Linked DNA regions of Homo sapiens: region 1 is linked to region 2. Evidence: fine-mapped expression QTL. Tissue or cell type: unexposed skin. Region 2 holds a variant in brackets; the other region holds the start of a gene. All regions are shown on one strand. Distances are from middle to middle.

Region 1 (8,000 bases), 39 kb after region 2:
GCAACTCAGAGACAGTCTGTGAGCATCTCAGCTACGGAAAATGACTTCACCCTAGGTAGAACCTACAGGGCTAATCAATCTGAACATTAGGGCACAGAATCCTTTTCTTTCAGTGTGGGGGCATTTTCAGTTCATGAAATAAGCCTGGATATTCGGAAGCTAGGTATTGATGCTTGGAAGAGCATCTTTTTTTAACTCTGCACTGTCCAGTAAGTTAGCCACTAGCCACGTGTGGCTATTGGAACACCTGAATTGCAGCTGGTAAAAACTGGAAACTAAATTTTCAATTCTATCTACTTAAAACTTTAGTTCCTTAGTCACACATTTTAAGTGCTCCATAGCCACATATACCAAGCGGCTACCTGTTGGATGGCACAGATAGAAAACATTGCTATTATCACAGAAAATTGTATTAGATAGCGCTGTTTATATCCTTTATGCTGCTATCATAGAAAGTTGTATTGGATAGCGCTGTTTAGATCCTTTACTCAACCACGAAAATTCTATCAGAGACCATGATTTAATTCCTATTTTTAAACTATATAACAGGCACCACGCGATATCCTGTGGTGTTGCAAATAAACAAGAAGGTCTAGTTCCTCTCTCAAAACATAATCTAATGACAAAGATGTAACCAGTTCAAATGAACAGCTAGTAGGAACAAATTAAATGCTAAACTGGTATGATGGGGTGGGAGGCACTCATTAATTCTAATAAATGAAAGCACCACAGTTTGATTGCAGTCAGGTGACCACCTTCACTTATTAAATGCATTGAGGCACTGAGTACATGAAAAAGAACACATTTTGGCATCAGGCAGCCCTGGGCTCATGTCCTAGCTGTATGTCTGTGGACAAGGCACTTAATCCCTCTATACCTTTATCATCTCATCTATAAAATGAGGATAATAATGCTAGCCTACTTGCAACATAAGGCTTTACCACGTAAGATTAGGGATAACGGAGCTTCATACACAAATGTACTCTCTAATTTGCTTTTTTTCAGTAACTCAACTAGGGTGAGGCAAGGAATCAAGAAAGTGTCACAAAAGAAGTGACACTTGGCCAGGCGTGGTGGCTCACACCTGTAATACCAGCACTTTGGGAGGCCGAGGCGGGGGCATCACAAGGTCAGGAGATCAAGACCATCCTGGCTAACACAGTGAAACCCCATCTCTACTAAAAATACAAAAAATTAGCTGGGTGTGGTGGCGGGCCCCTGTAGTTCCAGCTACTCGGGAGGCTGAGGCAGGAGAATGGCATGAACCCGGGAGGTGGAGCTTGCAGTGAGCTGAGATCGCACCACTGCACTTCAGCCTGGGTGACAGAGCGAGACCCCCATCTCAAAAAAAAAAAAACAAAAAAAATGACACCTGAGATGGACTTTAACTGCCTCTTGAGGTCCCACCCAATAGAATTCTGTACAGTGGCAATTCACATTTCAGCACACTCTTCAAATAATTTCTGAATGGCACAGTGGGGTACATGAAGAAGGCCCCATAAACTCCAGGCTCTACCTCTTCCCGGAACTGCCCGAAGGGCTGAGGGGATCCCTATCTCAGTACAGTACGCGATATTTGGGGGCAGTCCCTGCTAAAGGGCTAGAACTGGGTCTCCTGAAAAAAATCATGAAGATTTTGGTGTTTGCCAGCCTGTTGTAGTCTGAGCCTGTTCAGTTCGAAAGCCTTGAAAATACCACTTAGCCACTTCAGTTTCCTCACCTGTAGAGCAGGACATCTGTGGTGTCCCCAACTCACAGATAGTATAGAACACTTGTAAAGCCACTTCGCTATAAAGGCCTACCACATATAGGGTGTCTGGAGCAGCTCTGAGCTTCATTTCTTCAGTCTTCCATTATGAAACTCATCCGGGAGTGTAGGTGTCCATCTTTCCCCACCAGACTGTAAGCAACTTGAAGGTAAAGACCATGCCTCACAGTGAGTAATCAAAAGTCTCATCTCACCATAATCTGCTGAATGCCTACACTGTGCCTCACCCCATGCTAAATGTTCATTTGGATTATCCCGTTTACTCCTCACCACGAGATGAGTCTCAGTTTTTCCTCTTCTGCAAAGTTCCTACTTCATAGGGCTCCGAGAATTTTTTTTAATGGCAATGTATGTAAAGATATCAGTACTGCACTTCGCATGTAATAAAGACATAGTAAATTTCAGTTATCCATTCTGTAGATAAGAAAATTAAGGCACAGACAGGTTAAGTTGCTGGGGTCAGTAAGGCGGCAAAGTCAGGCTTAAATTCTAGGCAGTTGGCAGAGGCAACATGCTGCAAGTGTCCAAGCCAGTGCCTGGCACATAACAGAATGAGTTCAATGAATTGTCTGTCAGAACCTGAGCAGGGCCTGAAATCAATGACAACTGCATGAGAGAGGAGAGGAGAGGAGAGGTAAGGTCTGGGTGGCCCCTTAACCTAAGATGGGAGAGACTACCTACTTCACAGGGCTGTTCTAAGGACTGAGTGCGAGGATACACACAAAGGTCTTAGTATAGTGACTGGTATGAAGTAAAGGCTTTGTAAGGGGTAGCTATCCTTGCCTCCCTCTTACAGATGAGAAAACGGAGACACAGGGAGATGAAGAAACTCTCCCAGTATTATTCAGCTGGCAAATAGCTGAGCCAGGACTCGATCTGCAGAGTCTGACTCCGGAGCCCACTGGCTTTTACTCCAAATACCCAGCACTGGGCCCGACATGCTAGGGCCAGTACGGCAGTGAATGCAGCCGAGATAATAACAGCCACAAATGTCAGGGGGAAACTGAAGGGAAAATGGCTTGATGAACTAGAAGTCTGGACACCTGAGTCCCAGTCCGTGGACCCTCAGGCAAGTACCTTAAACCTTCCCGGGCCTCAGTTTCCTTCTTCGAGAAATGGGGCTAACTTTGTCTCCCATCTCAGAAGCTCGATCAGGCCTGGAAAGCAAGGCTCAATGAAGAGGCTTAGAGGGGCCTAGGTTGTATGTGGGCGAGAGGACAATCCGGGGACCGTCCAGGGGGTGGGGATTTGGTGTTTACCTTTGCGGAGCTCGCGGTGCCACACGGAGACGATGGGTCCCGCGTGCTTGCGGTGGTGGATGAGCCAAAGGGACAGGGTCTGCACGCTCTGCTGAGAGTTGCTCAGCTCCGAGAGCTTCTTCTCCAGCGCCGACTCAGAGAAGGAGGACATGGTGGCGGCAGTGAGGCCCGGCAGGGAGCGGCCTGGGCCGCCCAGTGCGGCGGGAAGAGCGACGGCACGAGGCCGGGGCCTCACCTGACAGGCTGCGGGACTTTTTACCGACTGACAGACTGCCAGGGGTGCGAGAAGGGGGAGGGGATGGGTCTCCGCAGTAACAGCCGCCCGCGCCGCCGCCACAAGATGGCCACCCGACCTCTCACCCTGCCGCGAGAGCGAGGTCAAAGGGCAAGGGCCGGAGCAGAGGGGCACCGAGAGGCGTCGGAGCTCTAGAAAACCGTCCCTTTGGAGGCGGCGGCCGCTCTGAACCTCGCGCAGAGCACTTCGAAGGAGACAGAGCGAGGCAAGGAGAGTAGTTCCCCGGGCCCCCGGAAAGAGCTTTGACCGCTCGAGCCTGCACACCGGCGCAGTGGATCTCGCCGGAACCCTTTTTCCCGCTCCCTCGGAACCTTTCTGGCGCGATACGGCGCGCTACTTAGCGCGTCACTTCCGGCGAGGCAGAGGAGGCGGGAGAGTGAGAGAAAGGCTGGAAGACGAGGTAAGGGAAGAGTGGCGGGAACCAGAGGGAGCCCAGCAGCTGGGACCCTGTAGAGGGGTATCCTGAGGGGACATTGAGTCTGAGAGATCATGATCTGGATATGGGAGGGGGATTTCCTTTCTAATCTGGCGGGCCCCAGGCCGCATCTTTCCTCCATATGTGTTCGGCTCTCTGGCTGTCCCCCAAAACACTTAGTTTTGGTTCTTCCAAGCCACCCACGTGCCCTTTTCACGCCTCCACGCCCTGGCGCTCGTTCTCTGTCCGAAAGTGACATCCCCTTTCTCACCTGGTGAGCTCCTACTCAGCCCCCCGGAGCACCCTTTAATGTCCTGTTTTGACCTTTTAGTCTGTAACAGCGCCGTCATGAAACACACATTTGGGCTCTCGGCTCTTAAGTGGGTTCTCACTCAGGGTATTATTACGTGCTGCTTTTGCCGTCTGCGGGTCCAGTTGACTTTTTCGAACTTAAGTGAGGTGTTAACTTTAGGGAAAAGGTGGAGGGAACTAACTTAGCCTTCCCAATGTGTCTGTTGACCTCATGTTGAGACACACTATTTGAGGCCTGGCGCAACGTCTCTTGCTTGTAATCCCAACCCTTTGGGAGGCCGAGGCGAGAGGATAGCTTGAGGACTGGAGTTCAAGACCAGCCTGGGTAACAGCGAAAATTAGCCAGGCATGGTGACGCTCACCTGCAGTTCCAGCTACGCGAGAGGATACCTTGAGCCCAGGAGTTAGAGGTTACAGTGAGCTATGATCGTGCCACTGCACTCCAGCCTGGGCGATGGAGCGAGACTCTTCTCTGAAACAAAACAAAACACTATCTGAGACTCTAAACCTTGACCCTATTTTTTTTTTAAGTTTTAAATCCCAGGTATCAAAGCAGCAGAGAAATTTTGTTTTTCTTACTGCCACGGGGGTGATGGTAGGGAGTTAAGTTATAGACATAAGAGGGTTTTAAAATTTCCTGATCGTGGTATAACTTCCTAGTTGTGGGCAGACTCTAGTTTAGGAGACGTTCTTCTAGTTGATGCCTGCTTTTGCTCTTATTGCACTGTATTGCAGTTCTTTGCTTACATGCTTTTACCCTTCCTCCAGACTGGAATCATAATCATAGCTAACGCAGTGAGAGGTTACTATGTGCTAGACACAATTCCCACACAGTAACTCATTTAATCCTCACAACAAAGCTGTGAGGTATTATATTATCCCCCTTTGGACAGCGTAGGAAACAGGCTCAGAGAGGTTAAGTGACCTACCCAAGATCACATTACTAAGACTTGAGGGAAGGGGCTGCAACTTAGCCATCTTTTTGGCCCCAGTTCCTGATTTATCAAGTGAGTTAGTGTAAAAGAGGTGAGTAACCTAAAATCATACAGTGAGTATCTAGTCATAACTGAGGGCTTTTGTGTCGAAATCTAGATCATCTTTCCATATTAATAACACTGTCATATACTGAGCACTTTTATACCAAGTCACTGTCTATTAAGCACATTACATACTTTTTAAATTTAATTCTTACATCAGTCTTAGGAGTTGAAATTATTACAATCACTATTTGATAGACGAGAAAATGTAAAGCATGGTTAAGTACCCTATGTACTTGGACATAGTTAGGAAATAGCAGAGCCAGGAGTCAAATTAGGGTTATCTTATGTCTGATCCCAAATTCTTGCCTCCTGAACCAATAGTTTATTCATTCATTCGGAAAATAATTTTTCAGCACCTATGTCCAAAGCACTCTTCTAAGCTAACAGACAAAATCCACGTTCTCAGGAACTTACTTTCTACTGAGAAAGATAGAAAAACAAACATGCAAGTTTAGAATAAGTCAGAAAGTGGTAAGTAACTTCAATAAAAATCAAGGAGATAAGGAGGATAAGGAATGTATATGTGTAGGTGGGTAGTCTTTTACTTATGCTTCTCAGAGAAGGCCTCATTGATAAGATGTCATTTGAGAGACAAGCCATATGCCATTGTTCCAGGAAGAGGGAAAACCAAGTTTATACCATTGTTGGCATTTTGGAGCAACAGCAGAGAGGACAATAAAGCTGGAGTGATATGAACTAGAAGGGTGGCTGGAAATTAGTTCAGAAAAGTACGAAGGGACTGCATCACATGGTGACTTGTAGGCAATAGTATAGACTTTAGATGTTACTCTGAATGAAATGAAGTCCACTGGGCAGTTTTGCACAAAGAAGGAGCATTGTGGCTGTTAGGTAGAAAATAAGACAGTAAGAGTGCAAAGGTAGAAGCAGGAAGGACCAGTTTGGCAGCTGTTGTAGTAACCCAGGTGAAAGGATAACTCAAACCAGGGTGGTATCTGTGGAAGTGGTAAGAAAGGGACAGTTCTGGGGATATTTTAGAGGAAGAGGTAACAGGATCCGCTGATAGATTGGATATGGGGTGTGAAAGACATATGAGAGTTGAGATAGCTCCAAGGGTTTTGGCCTAAGCAACTATAAGAATAGCGCTTCCATTTACTGAATTACAGAAAAGAGTGGGTTTGGAGAGTAAGAGCAAGCATTTGTATTTGGACATGTCCATTTGGAAATGCCTATCTGAGTATAGATGTCTAAGGGGCAGTTGGGTTTATGGGTCTGGAATTCAAGGAAGAGCTATCTGGGTTAGAGATAAAAATGTGAGAGTCATAACGGAATAAGGTGTAAAAAGAGACTGAGTCCTAGGATTCTTCAACATATAGAGGTCTGAAAGGTGAGGATGATATGATTATGTGATTTTTCTTCTTAAGCTTGTTAATAGCTTGTTAGTATTAACAACTCTAATTGATTTTCAAATATTGAGCCAGTCTTGCATCTCTGAAATATACCCCACTTTATCATGGTGTGTGTGTGTGTGTGTGTGTGTGTGTGTGTGTTTTACATACTGCTGAATTTCCTAATATTTTCTTTAGGATTTTTGCATCTATACTCATGAGAGAAATTGGTCTATAGATTTTTTTAATTTTTGTATTGCCTTTGGTTTGGTATCAGGATAATACTGGCTTTATAAAATGGATTGGAAAGTGTTTCTTCTTTTTCTAGAAGAGTATGTGCAGAATTGGTGTTAATTCTTCATTAAATGTTTGGCGGAATTCTCCAATGAAACCATCTTGGTTTGGAGATTCCCTCCACTCCCTGCTTCCCTCCCTCCCTCCTTCCTCCTTCCTCCCTCCTCCCTCCCTCCCTTCCTTCCCTTCTTCCTTTTTTTTCTGGAGTTTTTAAGTGACAAATTCAGTTTATTTAAAAGTTATAAAGCTGTTAAAATAATCTCTTTCCTATTGTGGTTGTGTTTTTTGAGGAATTAACCACTTCATCAAAGTTGTCAAATTTATATGGGTAAAGCTATTTGTGGTATTCCCTGTCTTTGTTTTCTGTTGCTTATAACAGAATACCTGAAACTGGGTAATTTATAAAGAAAAAGGATGTATTTCTTACAGTTATGGAGGCTGAGAAATCCAAGGTCACAGGGCCACATCAGGTAAAAAACTTTCTTGCTGGTGGGGACTCTGCAGAGTCCCAAGGCAGTGCAGGATATCACAGGGCCAGGGGGCTGAGTGTGCTAGCTGAGGTCTGTTTTGCTCTTATAAAGCCACCAGTTCCCATGATAACCCATTAATCCATTTATGAGGGCTTATAAAGACTCCACTTCTCAATACATTGGGAATTAAATTTCAACATGAGTTTTGGAAGGGACGGATATTCAAACCATAGCATTCCCATATTACCCTTTGATGTCTGCAGGGTCTGTAGTACTGTCCCGTTTCATTACTGATATTGGAAATTTCCAGTATCAGTGTCTCGTCTCTTCTCTCTCCTCTCTCTCTCTCTCTCTCTCTTGCTCACTCACTCCCTTGTCAATCTTGCTAGAAGTTTGTCAATTTTATTGACCTTTTCAAAGAACCAGTTATTTATTTCATTGACTTTCTGTGTTTTCTGTTTTCAGTTTTGTCAGTTTCTGCTCCTTATTATTTCTTCTGCTTGCTTTATTTTGCTCTACTTTGTCTAGGTTCTTGTGGTAGGAGTTTACCTTTTTCGTTTGAGACTTTTCCCCTTTTCTAATATATGACTTAGTACTATTAATTTACATCTCAGCATGGCTATAGCTGTATCCACAGATTTTGGTGTGTCATATTTTCATTTTCATTCATTTCCCTATTTTTTTTCTAATTTCCCTTAAGGTTTCCTCTCTGTTCCGTGGATTATTTAGAAACATGTTGTTTAGTTTCCAAGTATTTGGAGATTTTCCTGTTATCTCTGTGTTAGTGATTTCAAGCTTGAT
Region 2 (8,352 bases):
CATTGTAATACAGTAATATTAAATGCTGCAGACAGGGCCAAAAAGAGAAAGGGAGCCAAGAGGCAGAGACTAAGAAGTACCTTTTGGGTTTTGAGATTAGACCACTGGGGGCAGGGGTGGGGGGAAGGGGGGAAATTCTGAAGACAGCCACTTGGGTGGAATGTAGACATGCATGCCAAGCTGCAACAGGCTGAGAAGCAGAGGCAGCAAGGGAAGTGGATATGGTGGTAGTTATAAAGGGAGGGTGGTGCAGAGGGTATGCTCATGTGAATGTGATGATTTCTTTTAAACACTGGAGAGACAAAGCATGCTACATGCTGAGGACCTTCAGCTAGTTTACTGGAGACTTCTCATGTGGGCAGGAAAATAAATTGGCCCTAAAGGTCCCATGTGACGAGGGAAGGTGGAAGCTAACAACTTCAGATTAGTTAAGGTGTTGGAATCTGTTGTCCCAGGAAGGTAAAGTGTTACTTTATCAATGAAAAGTCACATCAAAGATAAAACGCTGGGAGGACCACTGGCTTCAATGGAAAAAGCCAAAAAGAACCTGAAATATGCAAAGCAGATCATCATCACTGCACCATAATTGGGGTAAATGGTATCTTAAAGGGAACAATTCCTACTGAGTCTATGCCCCACAGAACAGACACACTGTGAGCAAAAGGAAAGGACTGGGAAAAGGACATCATGAGTAAAAGTAGGATTTGTCCATTCATAATTACTGTCCAAACCCCAATAATTCTCAGAAAGGCTGCTGGTAAATTTTTGTTGAGTTGAAGTTTGCGAAGTTATTGTGCTTGAAATTCTCAAAGTAGCTACTGGCAGAATTAGGCAAAGAGAGCTAATCATACTTCTTCCTACAGATGTTTAAAGATAAAGGACCTCAATAAGGAAAAAAACAAATAAGGAGGCTTGCACAGCCATCATGACAGCTGGCTAGTACCATCCTCTTCACATAAAGCATGCCATATCTTTGGGGCTCATGGCTTTCATCTGCAAAGGTTTCACTTGACTCCTGATTATAACCAGAATACTTTGCCCTGATCTCAGAAAATGACTCTTTCTGATCTATTTCAAGTCTAACATTTTAGAGACAGAAAAACAAAGTCAGAGATTAACTTCCAAGATTGCAAAGTATGCCACAATCCAATTTTAACTTTCTTCAGAATCCCAATTTTAAGTGGGAGTAGAAGGCCCACCTTAACAGTAGTAAGAACATTCATAAAGACTAAAATAGAACCTTGCTCAAAATAACTTGCACCCACTAGGTCAAACAGGCAGCTCAAATTTCTGCAATCTGAACCTTGCTCTCAATATTATGCTCACTCAAGTCAATGTTATAGTAGAAGTATGTGCTATTTTCACACAGCTATCTCAAATGTAAACAAGATCATTTAAAAGCCAGAAGAGAGCTCCATTAGTCTAATTAAACTATTCTGTGTTTACTCCTTCATAAAACAAAAGACTAATCCTTAACTTGTATAGAGGTTTATACAAAATAAGCTCAATGAAGTCCTAGACTGGTTAAGATGCTTTGGAAAAGACAAGAACTCCTACAGCAGGAACGCATTCTGGTGGCAGAGACCGTGAAATGTATATGACCTTCAGTATACTTAAAAGACAAGCAGACATCTGCACATATACATAGAACCACTTCTAGAAATCTACAGGAAGAAAATAATCCAAACACTGAAAGTTAGCCTAAAGCTAAGAGACAGAGACAGAAACATACAAGTGCTCAATACAAATAATCATTGACTATCCAACCACAGGTATTCAAGCAATCATTTACAATGTTTATAAAGTTTTTATTTACAAGGAAAAATAATCATGTTAAGAAAAAAGCATGACAGAAAATTATCTGCAAGTTATCATTCAGTTTAATTTTAAACTAAGAGGAAAAGGAAATACGCAAAAATTAAAAATAGTTATCTCTGGGTAATGAGACTAATTTTATTCTTTATACTTATTTGCTAAGTTTCCTCTGATGTATTACTTTTACAATCAAAAAAAGAAAACAAAAACAAAAACAAAAACCCTGAGTACTAGTTGAACCAGAGTGAATGTTCTGGCAGGCAGGAGTAATAAGAGGCCCAGGTGCTGTTTTAACTTCATATTATATGCATTCCATAAATATGAAAAATTAGTGCTACATATACCAGCTGAAACTCAGTGGCACTGTTCCATCAAGCAGGGGTTACACTGCCCACAGAAGTTGGGCTACAAATATGAAAACGGTACTATGGCTAAAGGCATGAATTCTTGCTGGGAAAGCCTTAAAACCGTGTCACTTTTTCAATGTAAAGTCTCAAAGTCTCAAATGTTGGCAAATCATGTTCTTAAGTCACTAAGTATGTGAAGTACATTATAATGTGGCATTATTTTCCTGGAGTGAAAAATAAGTATCATAGGTTTCACATTGTAATAAAGAAACACACACACACCCAACAGATAAAAGCTCCAGCTATAAACTGGGCCTAAGCAGTAGGGTCAGTAGACTAAAATGAATAAAAGAAATCCAAGGAACTCCAAATCACTCACAGAAGCCCACACATTAACTCAATAAAAGTCCTCACATATTGGAGGGAAACTGGCGGAAAAAAAGAAAATAAAAGAAAAGTAAAAAGAAAGAAAACTCCCACATCAAAGTAGGGGATGGAAAGGCAAGGGAGAGCAGTAAGCACACTACGGCCTGCTTCGTGGGAAGGTACTGAGTGCAAGGCCCCGTAATTACTTGGCAACAGAATGACCTGTTTTAACAACTATTCTAACAACCTGGGTGCTGACAGAGCTGCCAGCCTAGGGAGGACAGACTTGAATACTACAGAAGGGCAGTGAGTTTAGAGGACTGAGAGGAGGGGGCCGGCACTAGGCAGGGCCTCTCAGCTCCCAGGAGAACACAGTGGATGATCACTGTAGTTAGGAGTCAGAAGATCCAGGTACTGGTCCTCACTGGCTTCCTCTGTGACCCTGAAGTGTTCACATAAACCCAAGGGCTCTTACCTAAAATGACAATTAGATCACCGGCTCCCATCTGTCCTTACCATGATAGGACACTGAGATACTGGCTTTGATCATCATAGGAAAGACGAATTTACTCCAAAGTTGACAAAAAAGGAGCTCTCTATCTCCCCCTACTGCCTGGCCTAATATTGAAACAAAAGCTTCTAACCATCTGCACCCTGCAGGGAGGTGCTGCCAAAAACAACAATCTGCCATCATTTTGGTTGAGCACCCCTTCAACTGTAGCCAAAGAATTTCTCAAGTTGTTATAACCACAATCAAACAGAAATATGAAGAGTCATAAGGCAATGTTGGATTCTGAACCATTTCCCCCTTCCCAGCTGTGTTGTCTGAAGTCAGAGGCTCTACTCCTGAGTAGTCATTACAGCCAAGGGGGAGGTGCCAAGCGAGGAGAAACACCAGCAGCTTTAAGTTCATGAGCCAATTTCTCCCCTCCTATCAGAGCAAGAGCGTGAGCAGGGGTACAGCGAGGCAGGTACTTAGAACCTTGGTGGCAGAGTAGGTTCTTTCACACTTAGAATGCTTTCATGCAATCATTTTATGACCCCACATAAAATGTCATTTCTCTACAACAAGATTCTTGGGAACTGTTTAAATGATTAAACTTTGGCTACTATTCTGTGTAAGATGTCTTCCTGCTGTTGATGTTGCAGAATCAAAATTCTGAAATCAAAACAAAAGTACAAATCTGATGAAGTTACCAGATGTCTGCCTTGGACTCTATGCTGGTCTGCAGCTACCTCTCTCTCTAGGTTTCTTCACCAATTCAGAAGTCTGATTATATGATCTCTAAGGTTCTGTCCAGCTCAATAATCCTGCTAATCACTTTACTTAGATATCCAGGCCTCTATGTGTCACTTTACTTTGTAAAGCTGCTGTTGTGACTGTGCCCTGGTGACTCCATTGAGTCCATACACAAAATACTCATATCTTCTAGAGGTGGGGGTTAACATTATTGAAAGGTGATACCACTGCCCTCCATCTGTGGTCCCAAAACCTAGACAGGGCCTTTATAATATCAAATGCATCAGTAAATGACACTCTCCTAGAGTGCTTTTTAAAATTCTGCAGCAGAAATTGAAGACTTAAATAAATGTGAAGACATCCCCTGTTCATGAGCTGAAACACTTAAGACTGCTAAAAT[C/G]GCAATACTCCCCAAAGTGACCCGCAGACTCAATGCATTCCCTAGTAAAACTTCAATTACCTTTTTTGCAGAAATGGAAAAGGTGATTGTTAAATTCATAGGGAATTGCAAGCGATCCTAAATAGCCAAAACAATACTGAAAAAGAACTCTGAGGACTCATACTTACTGATTTTAAAACTTACTACAAAACTACAGTGATGGAGATAGTGTGGTATGAGCATAGGATAGACATATACATTAATGGAATAGAATTGAGAATCCAGAAATAAACCAATACATCTGTGGCCAATTGATTTTTGACAAGGGTGCTGGGCATTCAGGTGGAGGAAAAGAGTAGTCTCTTCAACAAATGGTGCTGGGACAAATGGATATCTACAGGCAAAAGAATGAAGTTGGTCCCCCCCTACATCACACCACATACAAAAACTAACTCAAAACAGATTAAGAACGTAAATTTAAGACATAAAATTATAAAACTTCTAGAAGAAAACACAGAAAAAAATTGTCATGACCTGGGATTGGCAACAGATTATTACATGTGACACCAAAAGCATGAGCAACAACCACAAAAATAGATAAATTGGAACTCATAAAAATAAAAAACTTTTGCACATCAAAGGATATTACCTAGAAAGTGAAAAGACAACTTATAGGAGAAAATAGTTGCAAATCATTTATGTGATAAAGGTATATTATCCACAATATATAAAGAACTTTTACAACTCAAAAAAAGCAAATAACCCAATTTGAAAATGGGCAAAGGAATTGAACACACATTTCTCCAAAGATAAACAGCCGACAAGCATACTGAAAGATGATCAGTATCGTTAGTAATTAGCAAAATGCAAATCAAAATCACAATGAGATAAACCTGCACATGTAGGTTGTCGAAAATAAAGAGACAATAACAAATGTTGATGAGGATGTGGAGAAACTGGAACCCACGCACATTGCTAGTGGGGATGTAAAATGATGTAGCTGCTGTGGAAAACAGTCTGATGGTTCCTCAAAATGTTACATAGAATTACCATATGACCCAGCAATTCCACTCCTAGATTTATACATAACCAAGAGAAATGAAAAGATATGGCCACACAAAAACCTCCACATGACTGTTTATAGCAACACTATTCATAAGAGCCAAAAGGTGGCAACAACTCAAATGTCCATAGACAGGTTATAAACTGTGTCACATCCATACAACAGATTAGTGTTCTACCATAAAAGAGATGAAGTACTGATATATGCTACAACATGGGATGAATCTTGAAAACATCGTGCCGAAAGAAGCCAGACACAATTATGTTTTGGAACTTGATACAATACTGTGAACGTACTAAATGCCACCAAAATGTGTGCACTTTGAAGTGCATGGTTAATTTACGTTATATGAATTTCACCTCAACTAAAACAATAAATCTGCAGCTTGGAACAAATTTCTCAAGAGCTCTTCCCTGTGTGGCATATCATCTTTGTGTGTGTGCACCATGTGGCATGTGGGTCAACACAGGACTATCTGCTTTCAGTTCTAGATCGCTGACAGTCAGACACCATGATCTGAATAAAATTCACAGTTAAGGCCAGGCATGGAGGCGCATGCCTGTAATTCCAACACTTTGGGAGGCCAAGGCAGGTGGATCACCTGAGATCAGGAGTTCGAGACCAGCCTGCCCAACATGGCAAAACCCCATCTCTACTAAAAATACAAAAATTAGCTGGGTGTGGTGGCATGCGCCTGTAGTCCCAGCTACTCGGGAGGCTGAGGCACGAGAATCGCTTGAACCCGGGAGGCAGTGAGCTCAGATTGCTCTACTGCACTCTAGCCCTGGGCAACAGAGCAAGAGTCTGTCTCAAAAAAAAAAAAAAAAAAATCACAGTTAAGAAGGGAAAACTGCAGGTTCCTGACCTTTTTTCTTTCCTTAATACTTGTACAAATAGGTTTCTTTCTCACACACACACTCTTCCACATGCACTGATCATGCTAACAGAACATGTCTGTATCATGCTTTATTCACGCTGACAAGACAGGAACCCTATCCAACCCACTCACGCTATGTCTTATGAGCTTTGAGCAGACATCTGGGAGTAATGTAGTCACCTCTGTCAACCACAAACAAAGCTTCTCTTTGCTCTGGAAGTGAAGCTGGAAGGCTTTTCTGGTATCTTTGGCCTTTGCCTTTCTGAATGGGCTTTCTTCTATACCCTCCACATTCTCTAACCTCCTCTTTGGGCTGCCATTTGTGCTTCCTTCCACGTGCCTTCTCCATTTCTAGGTTTTCTCATGTTCATGACAAAAACATTACCCACAGATTTTCAGCAGCATTCCTTCCACCCTTGCCTGGTGTTTAAGGGCCAACATCATAGGCCAAAGTCAATCATGACACCCTGAAGCAAAAGTCAAAAACAAACAAACAAAAAAAGATGATTATCTCAGAATAAAGCATAATTCTACTTAAAGGAAAAAAGAAAAGTAGTACAAAGGAGAAAACCTACAGAAACTTCTAAAAATGGTTACCTTTCCGTACTAACATATTCTTTACAACCAATCATTAAATCAGATTTGTTAAGCCACTTTTAATGCAACCTTAAAAAAAAACCCTTTTCTCTATAGAAAAAGGTTACATCAAGTGATGGATTTCACAGAACAAGTATTTACTGAGGAACAAATATGTTCCTGGCACTGTGAGAGCACTCAAAGAGTATACAGTCTAGCAAACTTTGGGAGACCTGCTGAAGGCATTACAGTTTCAGAAACTGTCCATGATTTGATAACTCTCACAATTTTAATAAGCATCTGATCAAATTATTATTAGCATCTTCATTTTTTTCTTGGTCTATTTCAAGGTAGACACAAGTGAGAATATTTTCCTTACTGACAACCTATCTTGAATTCTACCCTAACCCCTTGTTTGCTGCTATTTCCCCCTGACTAGAGCATAAGCCCTTTGAGGGGAGAAGTGCATCGTGCCCATCTTTGTACATCTGGCTGGCACAGGCTTTGCTGACTCCCTGAATGAATACGTAGCTTCTTAAAGAGCACAGACCTTAATCTCCCACTGGTGGTCTGCAGCACCTCCTTCCCACATCTGACTTTGTCTTTCTTCAGATACCTGTCTGGTCCAGTCTAACTGCTCCCCATTTATAAACATGCTTCTCTTCTTCAACTGCTAGTTCCTTTTACAAAAAGGTTTTATTGCCTGACAGGAAGTTTGGACTTACCTTAAACCACAATCAGAACCGCCAAATGCCTCCTTAATCTACATTATGTACGATCAAGTGGTTTGGTTTTATGTTCACCTGTGTTTTTTATACCAGAATATGATTTCCTCGAGGGAAGAAACACAATCTCCTACTTTGAGCCGTAATTCCCTCTCCTACATCCTAGGCTCTGAATCATCACACGCCCTATCCTGACATGCAGGAGCCACCGACATAAAATTCCCAAGTGAAAGAGAAAAAGATGCTTATTACATAAAGCAAGATACAAAGTTAAAAAGGAAAGCACAAAACCTAAGTATATTAGAGCTTTGGGATGAAAACAGACTCGCAAGCAAATAACTACTTCTCCAAAGAGTTCTGAGAATTTCATCTATGTATATCCTGAAGGCAATGAAAGGATTAAAAAATAAAATATTTAATTAGCATTCTGATTTGGAAGTTTTAAAACGGACTGGCTGTGTTACAAAAATGAATGTTAAAAAAGTGGGTAAACTTTATGTACTGCCCCATCACGCAGAGAGACTTTTGGACAATCTGAAGGAATTCACAGTATTCACGCATCTTTCAAGGGGCATACATTTATCAAGTTCGGCCACCACCATAGGGATGTGATGGGACAGGACCAGTCTATTACAGAATGTGAGAGAAAAATCTTAGGTTCAGGAGAGCAGACTGCCTAAATTTTTAGCAAGCGTGGATAAAGAAAAGAACTAAAACCATCTCTCAAATCTTATATTGTGAAGCGGCCAGATCACTTGACGTCAGGAGTTCAAGACCAGCCTGGCCAATATGGTGAAACTCTGTCTCTGCTAAAAACAAAAAAAATTAGCCGGGCGTGGTAGTACATGCCTATAATCTATAATCCCAGCTACTCAGGAGGCTGAGACGGGGGATTGGTTGAGCCTGGGAGGTGGAGGCTGCAGTGAGCTGAGATCACGTCACTGCACTCCAACCTGAGTGACAG

Alleles and levels. Alleles are on the strand shown, and positions count from the first base shown. SD is a standard deviation of normalised expression in the study named.
For the expression in unexposed skin of the gene that starts at base 3,670 in region 1, allele G in region 2 goes with a lower level than allele C (moderate effect, 0.51 SD a copy in GTEx).

What was found. PIP is the estimated chance that this variant, and not a neighbour inherited with it, causes the effect.
Region 1: TTI1 starts here. The variant in region 2 is fine-mapped to the expression of TTI1 in unexposed skin (GTEx, PIP above 0.99).

What each region holds. Positions count from the first base shown.
Region 1 is chr20:38,029,126-38,037,125 of GRCh38, reverse strand. It overlaps TTI1 (TELO2 interacting protein 1), which reads left to right and starts at 3,670. Exons shown (of 8, transcript NM_001303457.2): 1 at 3,670-3,722. It overlaps RPRD1B (regulation of nuclear pre-mRNA domain containing 1B), which reads right to left and starts at 3,380. Exons shown (of 7, transcript NM_021215.4): 1 at 3,028-3,380. The coding sequence starts at 3,178. LOC124904898 (a long non-coding RNA gene) reads right to left here and starts at 3,020. Exons shown (of 2, transcript XR_007067579.1): 1 at 1,721-3,020. RefSeq lists enhancers at 2,748-3,343, 3,544-3,813, 3,344-3,939.
Region 2 is chr20:38,068,427-38,076,778 of GRCh38, reverse strand. All of the region lies in intron 6 of RPRD1B (regulation of nuclear pre-mRNA domain containing 1B), which reads right to left. Among named protein-coding and RNA genes, the nearest start is that of RPRD1B, 39 kb to the right of the region's middle. RefSeq lists an enhancer at 3,305-3,414. The variant C/G (reference allele first, on the strand shown) is at 4,169.